Linked DNA regions of Homo sapiens: region 2 is linked to region 1. The links come from fine-mapping of genetic effects on gene expression. A gene starts in region 1. The other region holds a variant in brackets. All regions are shown on one strand. Distances are between the middles of the regions.

Region 1 (2,921 bases):
TTGAGCTCTCAGGCTCAAGCCATCCTCTCACCTCAGCCTCCTGAGTAGCTGGGACTACAGGTATGTGCCACTACACCCAGCTAATTTTTGTTTTTTGGTAGAGATGGGGTCTCACCACGTTGTCCAGGCTGTTCTCCAACTCCTAGGCTCAACTGATCCCCCTATCTTGGCCTCCCAAAGTGCTGGGATTACGGCCAGATTTTCAGTTAGATTGTGGTTTGAAATATGCTGCTGCCATTTACTAGTTGTGTGACTTCATCCAAATTAATCAACCTTTCTGATATTGTTTCCTCACTTGTAAAATGGGGATGGCGACCTATTTACATCCTTTAATATTAATAGCAACTAATCCCTTTAAAAGGAGCTTCTAGTGTCACAATTTTTGGACAGGTATCATATTCATTACAACAAATACCTGAATGACATCTGAAGGCCAGGACCTAAATGAAAGAATTCCTTCTCCAGTGGCGCTCATGGTATTGATATGATGTGGGTGAGATGGGATGAAATCCTAATATTAACAACAGCGACTACTCACAAGCCTTTTCTGTATGTGCTGAGTACTGTTGTTATGAGCTCAACACGCATTGTCTCATTTTATTCTCACACGAATAACCTCATAAGGTGGTTTTAATAGCCTCATTTTATCCAGAACGAAATTGAAGTCCAGAGAAGTTAATTTGTCTAGGGTCATACAGTCAATGAGTGGCGAAATCCAGATTGGAAATTCCCAAATTTCAAAGGCCCCTGCTCTCAACTACCAAGAGGAAAAGGGGGGAAATTGGCTCAATTAAACGCATTCTGTGATCCAGTACCTGTGTGCGACGCTTTAACTATAAGGCGAGGAAGAAATCCCTAGACCAAAGTTTCCCTTAGCCCCTTTTCCTTCAAGAACTTTTAGTTAACAGCTTCTCTCCGCACAGACTGAGCGAATAAAGTTATAGAAAAGGGAGATGGGCTAGCGGCCACGCGGTCCTCGGGGCTGGTGTGGCTGTTTGCCTGACTTCAGACGCCCCGGATCTCCCGGAGGGAAGTCAGGGCCCAAGGCACTCCGCAGTCCAGCTGGGAAAGCTTGGGGCTGTAGGCCCGCGAGTGAACGTGAGCAGGTAACCCAGGCCGCGCAGCCAGACGGAAGCGGAGACCTAGAACCGAGAAGCCCACGTGCCGAAGCGGAAGACTAGAGCTCCCGGGAACGGCCTAGCCAGCGCCTTCCCCTCTCCAGCTCCCTGCCGCCGCGCGGCTCCTCCCACCCTGGGCTCCTCCCGCCCTACTCCCGCCTCCCCGGCCGGTTAGGCCAATGGGCGGGACGCGCGGGCAAGGCGGGGAGGGGCGGGGCCCATGGTCTGCGCGCAGGTGCCGCTCGGCGCCCGGCCCGCCCGTTCCGCCGCTGTCGCCGCCGTCGTGCGTGCCGCTCGGCGGAGGGGACGGGCCTGCGTTCTCTCCTCCTTCCTCCCCGCCTCCAGCTGCCGGCAGGACCTTTCTCTCGCTGCCGCTGGGACCCCGTGTCATCGCCCAGGCCGAGCACGGTGAGGCCCTCAGGGAGCCCGGGGGCGCGATCTCCGCCAGGTCTTCGGCGCCTGGGCTCATTGCCCTGAGGCTGGCGCGGGGCCCGGGCCCAGTGGCCAAGATGGGGCCAGGGCAGCGGGTGGCTTGGGGATGTGTGGATGAATGAGGCGCTGTCGGACTAGGCCGCGCGTCGGGAGATCGGCCTACGCCTCACGCGGGAAAGCCCTGGGGAAAGCCTTCTCCCGACGCCAGGACGCCCGGTGGCCCAGTCCGGAGAGGAGGATGGGGGGTGGGGCCCACTTTGGGTGGGCTGCCGGCCACCTCTCTGTAGGCCAGAGGACCCGACAGGCGCTGTTCCTGTATCTGTTCTTTGGAGGCCTGGGAGTTGGCCAGGAACAGGTGTCAGGACGCTGAGAAGGGAAATTCCTGGCCCTCGGGGTCAGGGATCAGAGGCTGGAATACTACTGCAAGGGCAGGGCCCCAGCGTGGTCCTAGGAGGTACAACTCTCAGCCAGAAGACTGGGACAGTTTTAGTTCCCAGCTTCTGAGACGTGAGCTTAGCGGTCTTTGTGATTTCACTTTGCAGTCCAAGGGTGGGAGTAATTCTGCACGCATGATTTGGAGACAGAACTAGTAAGGGACAGAGAAAGTTTCGACTTGTAAATAAAAAGGTTCCGTCGATTAATTTACCATTAGAAATAGTAACCATAATGTAGATTTTGGAGGTTGCTTATGAGGACTGATGAGCCGTACCTTCAGTGCCAAAGGTGGGAGGGACTTGGTGGAAGGACCCCAGTACCTGGTGGGTGTTCATCTATGTGAAAAATGGGGGTTGTGGGCGAATGGGAAAGATAAGATTCCAGATTATAGAGGAATGGTTTGGTGTGAAGGGTGACTTGGCTGCTGGTGGTTCCACAATGGAATTTTCTTTGACTGTCTTCTGTGTACTTGCTTCCAAATGCTTTCTTTCATATAACCATATATCAGGTTAAGATATAAAGTGTTTTGTGAGCAGTCTGGATGGAAGATTGGTAGCTAAACTCTAAGTTTATCTTTGATTCCTGGTGCCACAAATATTTTATTTATTTATTTATTTATTTAAGACAGAGCCTAGCTTTGTCGCTCAGGCAGAGCCCAGTGGCGTGATCTTGGCGCACCGCAACCTTCGCCTCCCGAGTTCAAGCAGTTCTCGAGCCTCAGCCTCCCGAGTAGCTGGAATTACAGGCTGCGCGCCTGATGGCCGGCTAATTTTTTTGTATTTGTTTTTCTTTTTAGTAGAGACGGGGTTTCTCCGTGTTGGCCAGGCTGGTCTCGACTCCTGGTCTCAAGCAGTCTGCCCACCTCGGCCTCCCCCTCCCAAAGTGCTGGGATTACAGGCCTGAGCCACCGTGCCCGGCCCAACAAATATTGATTTT
Region 2 (2,921 bases), 130 kb after region 1:
TAGGGAATGGCATCTACTGGAGCCAGAAAGATTGCCATTTTCCTTTCATTCAGCCACTCTGCTACAGCTTTAAATCCTCTCTGTTTATGCAACATAGCCTTTGTATTAAAGTGCAGAATAAATTTTTATTATGAGGGATATGAACACTAGGTTTTCATCATTTATAACACTGAAAGCAGATGTAAATAGTTAAAATCCATTTTAACTACTAAATCCTTTTAATTGTGTTAGCATCTTGTTTTTTGGTAATGTTTACATCTAAGCTCCATTTGCATTATTAGTTGCTTCTTTAGCAAAAGAAAAAGTTTTTGTTTTTTAAGATTAACATGTAATGTTACTATAGCAAATAAGACTGATGCAGGAAACAGTAATAAATACTTTCATGGGTCTTTTAGATCTGGAAAACTATTTTAAACCATCAAGAAAGAGGAGAGGAGAGGTTTGTGACTTTGGCCACAAGAGGAGACTAAAACTGTTGTTATTTTAGCAGGTCACCATTTCAGAAGTATTGAACACTTTAGTTACTGAAGTTCACCCTAAATGTAAATGGTAATGTGTTATTTTTCAACCCTAGAAAAGAAGGAAGCATTTTGAAAGATAAGTCTATTGTGTTATTGAGTAGCTATATTGACATTTTGTGAGATGCAAAAACTGGAATGGCTGCAAGCATTAGTCATTGAATTAGTCATTTCATTGATTTATGACTAAAGACCTAGCCCCTGAAGAGAAGCTGACATGGCAGCCGGGTTGGTTGCAGTTGTGTTATGATCAAATGACAGTAATCAAGATGTTGTAAGTGAATCCACAAACCATTTTTTATTATTACAAATTGCTGTTTCTTGAATGAGTAAAACTATATAGAAGTTTTTGTTGTTTTTGGTGAGCACAAGCATTTTTGAACACTTGAGGTTTTCATTTTCTAAACACGATCAGCTGTTACTTATAACTAAGATTATACTATAGACGGTATTAATTTTCATTTGAGATTGCTTACTGAGTCATGGTGTCAAGCAGGTACAGGACATTAGAACTGTCAAACTACTGCTTAATTAGGGGTTTAAATTTCAATCTTTGCACCCTTGCTGCTCTGTTAGTAGAATATGCCATCCAATTATGAAATCAGTAGAATAAACTAATTTTACATATTTTTTACACCTACCAGCCATCAATTATGTTTCATTTTTGTGATCCTACCTTTCTTGAAACTGTTAATAAAGGATAATTATATTTTATTATTTATTATACTACATATTTATGTTCAACTGGAAAATATAACTAAACTTTTAGATACGCAGACTGTGTGTGTGTGTGTGTGTGT[GTT/T]TGTGTGTGTGTGTGTTATACACACATTTTCATATGCCCTGGTGGGCTTGTAGTCATTTAACATTACCTTTTGGGTAATATTATATGAGTCAATTAATCTGAGTGATGAAATTGATTCAAGATAGGTAGACAAATACTTGGAAAGTCTTTTAAGTTGTTTAATAATGAAGGGCAATGTGTCAAGTTCACTAAATGCATTTTAAATAGAAAAATGTTTTATTATTCTTATTATACCATGATTCAGTTCCTTCCCCTTTCCCATCTTTATGTGTTCATTAGTTTTCCACATAATTTGTACATAACAACTAAAAATAGTTTGGGGATACTACACATTATGTGCTTGGTTTGGGGGGAATCATGGAATAAATATATTTTCTTGATTTCTTGAGCTGCCTATAAAAATTACAGCTACTATATCTCAGTAAGTGTATATGTAGGTGGAAGTGTGTATATTTTTGACACACAATTTTCTATTTCTGTATGTGTGCATATATATACAAACACATATATGCATATAAATATAAAAAACTATTTCTATAGAACTATTGTAGGAGGTCATCAGTTTCTGACAAGATCATTTAAGCTAGAAATATAACACAGACATTCTGCTTTGGAAAGATTACTTTGTATTATGATAAAGCTTATTGTTAACAGTATTATTTATACTATGAATTAGGATTTCAAATAATTTTTTGGTGAATGAATTTTGTGGAATTGATTATTTCTTTCTCTGATCAGAATCTTTAGAATTAAAAAGAATATGATAAAGAAAAATGATCTTTTTATTACAGGAGATGGAAGGCTGAAAGAAGTGGGGATGGGGAAAAACCTTTGCCCATTCAGGAATCTTTTTTTTTTTTCTTTTTTGGTCAAATGTACTTTTGCATTTGAATATATTTTTACATGTAATAATATTTGTGAATTCCTATTTGGTTTTCATTAAATGGGTTTTGAATATTCTTTCGACAATTTCATATTCTTATCGAGAGATAACAATACAGTAGTGCACTTCTGGTTTCTTATGAAAGAGATAATTATATACGAAAGCACTTTTTTTATATGAACATAATGCTACTGACCCTATGCATATTAGGAATTTCCCTTGGCCTGTTTGTATTTTTTGCAATACTATTTATAGCCAATGATTTCTATTTGCCAGATGGTTCACTGAATTCAAGAAAGTGATACATTTGGGAGTGCCCGTTGTAATCTTCATTAGCACCATCTGCTGACTTACTGATTTGTGAGTGATGTAATTTATCAAATATGTCAGGACTTTCATCTTTTTCAAACTAGCTGAAGAATTTCACTCCACATAAACAGGAAAAGTTATATAAAATTTTTTCTAGCTTCCACAGATTAAAAGGTTTATAAGTACTTTTTAAAAAATTAAGTGTTCCTTAGGATTCTGTCATGTGAAATTAAAATATATATTCTCTATACATGTACACACATCTATGTTCTAGGAAATGAAATATAAAGTTTGGTTTATAGCTATCCAGTGTTCTTCAAATTACAAATGATTCATCTACACAAAGAATTTCTTTGCTTCCCTACCCTACTCACTTTGTTGAATAATTCAAAAACAATCCCCTTAAAAA

Which allele goes with the higher level. Positions count from the first base shown, and alleles are read on the strand shown. Sizes are in standard deviations (SD) of each study's normalised expression.
For the expression in prefrontal cortex of the gene that starts at base 1,446 in region 1, allele T in region 2 goes with a higher level than allele GTT (small effect, 0.25 SD a copy in BrainSeq).

What was found. PIP is the estimated chance that this variant, and not a neighbour inherited with it, causes the effect.
Region 2: its variant is the best candidate, but not a certain one, in a credible set for the expression of OLA1 in prefrontal cortex (BrainSeq, PIP 0.58).

What each region holds. Positions count from the first base shown.
Region 1 is chr2:174,247,057-174,249,977 of GRCh38, reverse strand. OLA1 (Obg like ATPase 1) reads left to right here and starts at 1,446. Exons shown (of 11, transcript NM_013341.5): 1 at 1,446-1,526. RefSeq lists a silencer at 1,141-1,660.
Region 2 is chr2:174,118,356-174,121,276 of GRCh38, reverse strand. The region is part of intron 7 of OLA1 (Obg like ATPase 1); the gene reads left to right. Among named protein-coding and RNA genes, the nearest start is that of LINC01960, 95 kb to the right of the region's middle. RefSeq lists an enhancer at 1-461. The variant GTT/T (reference allele first, on the strand shown) is at 1,319.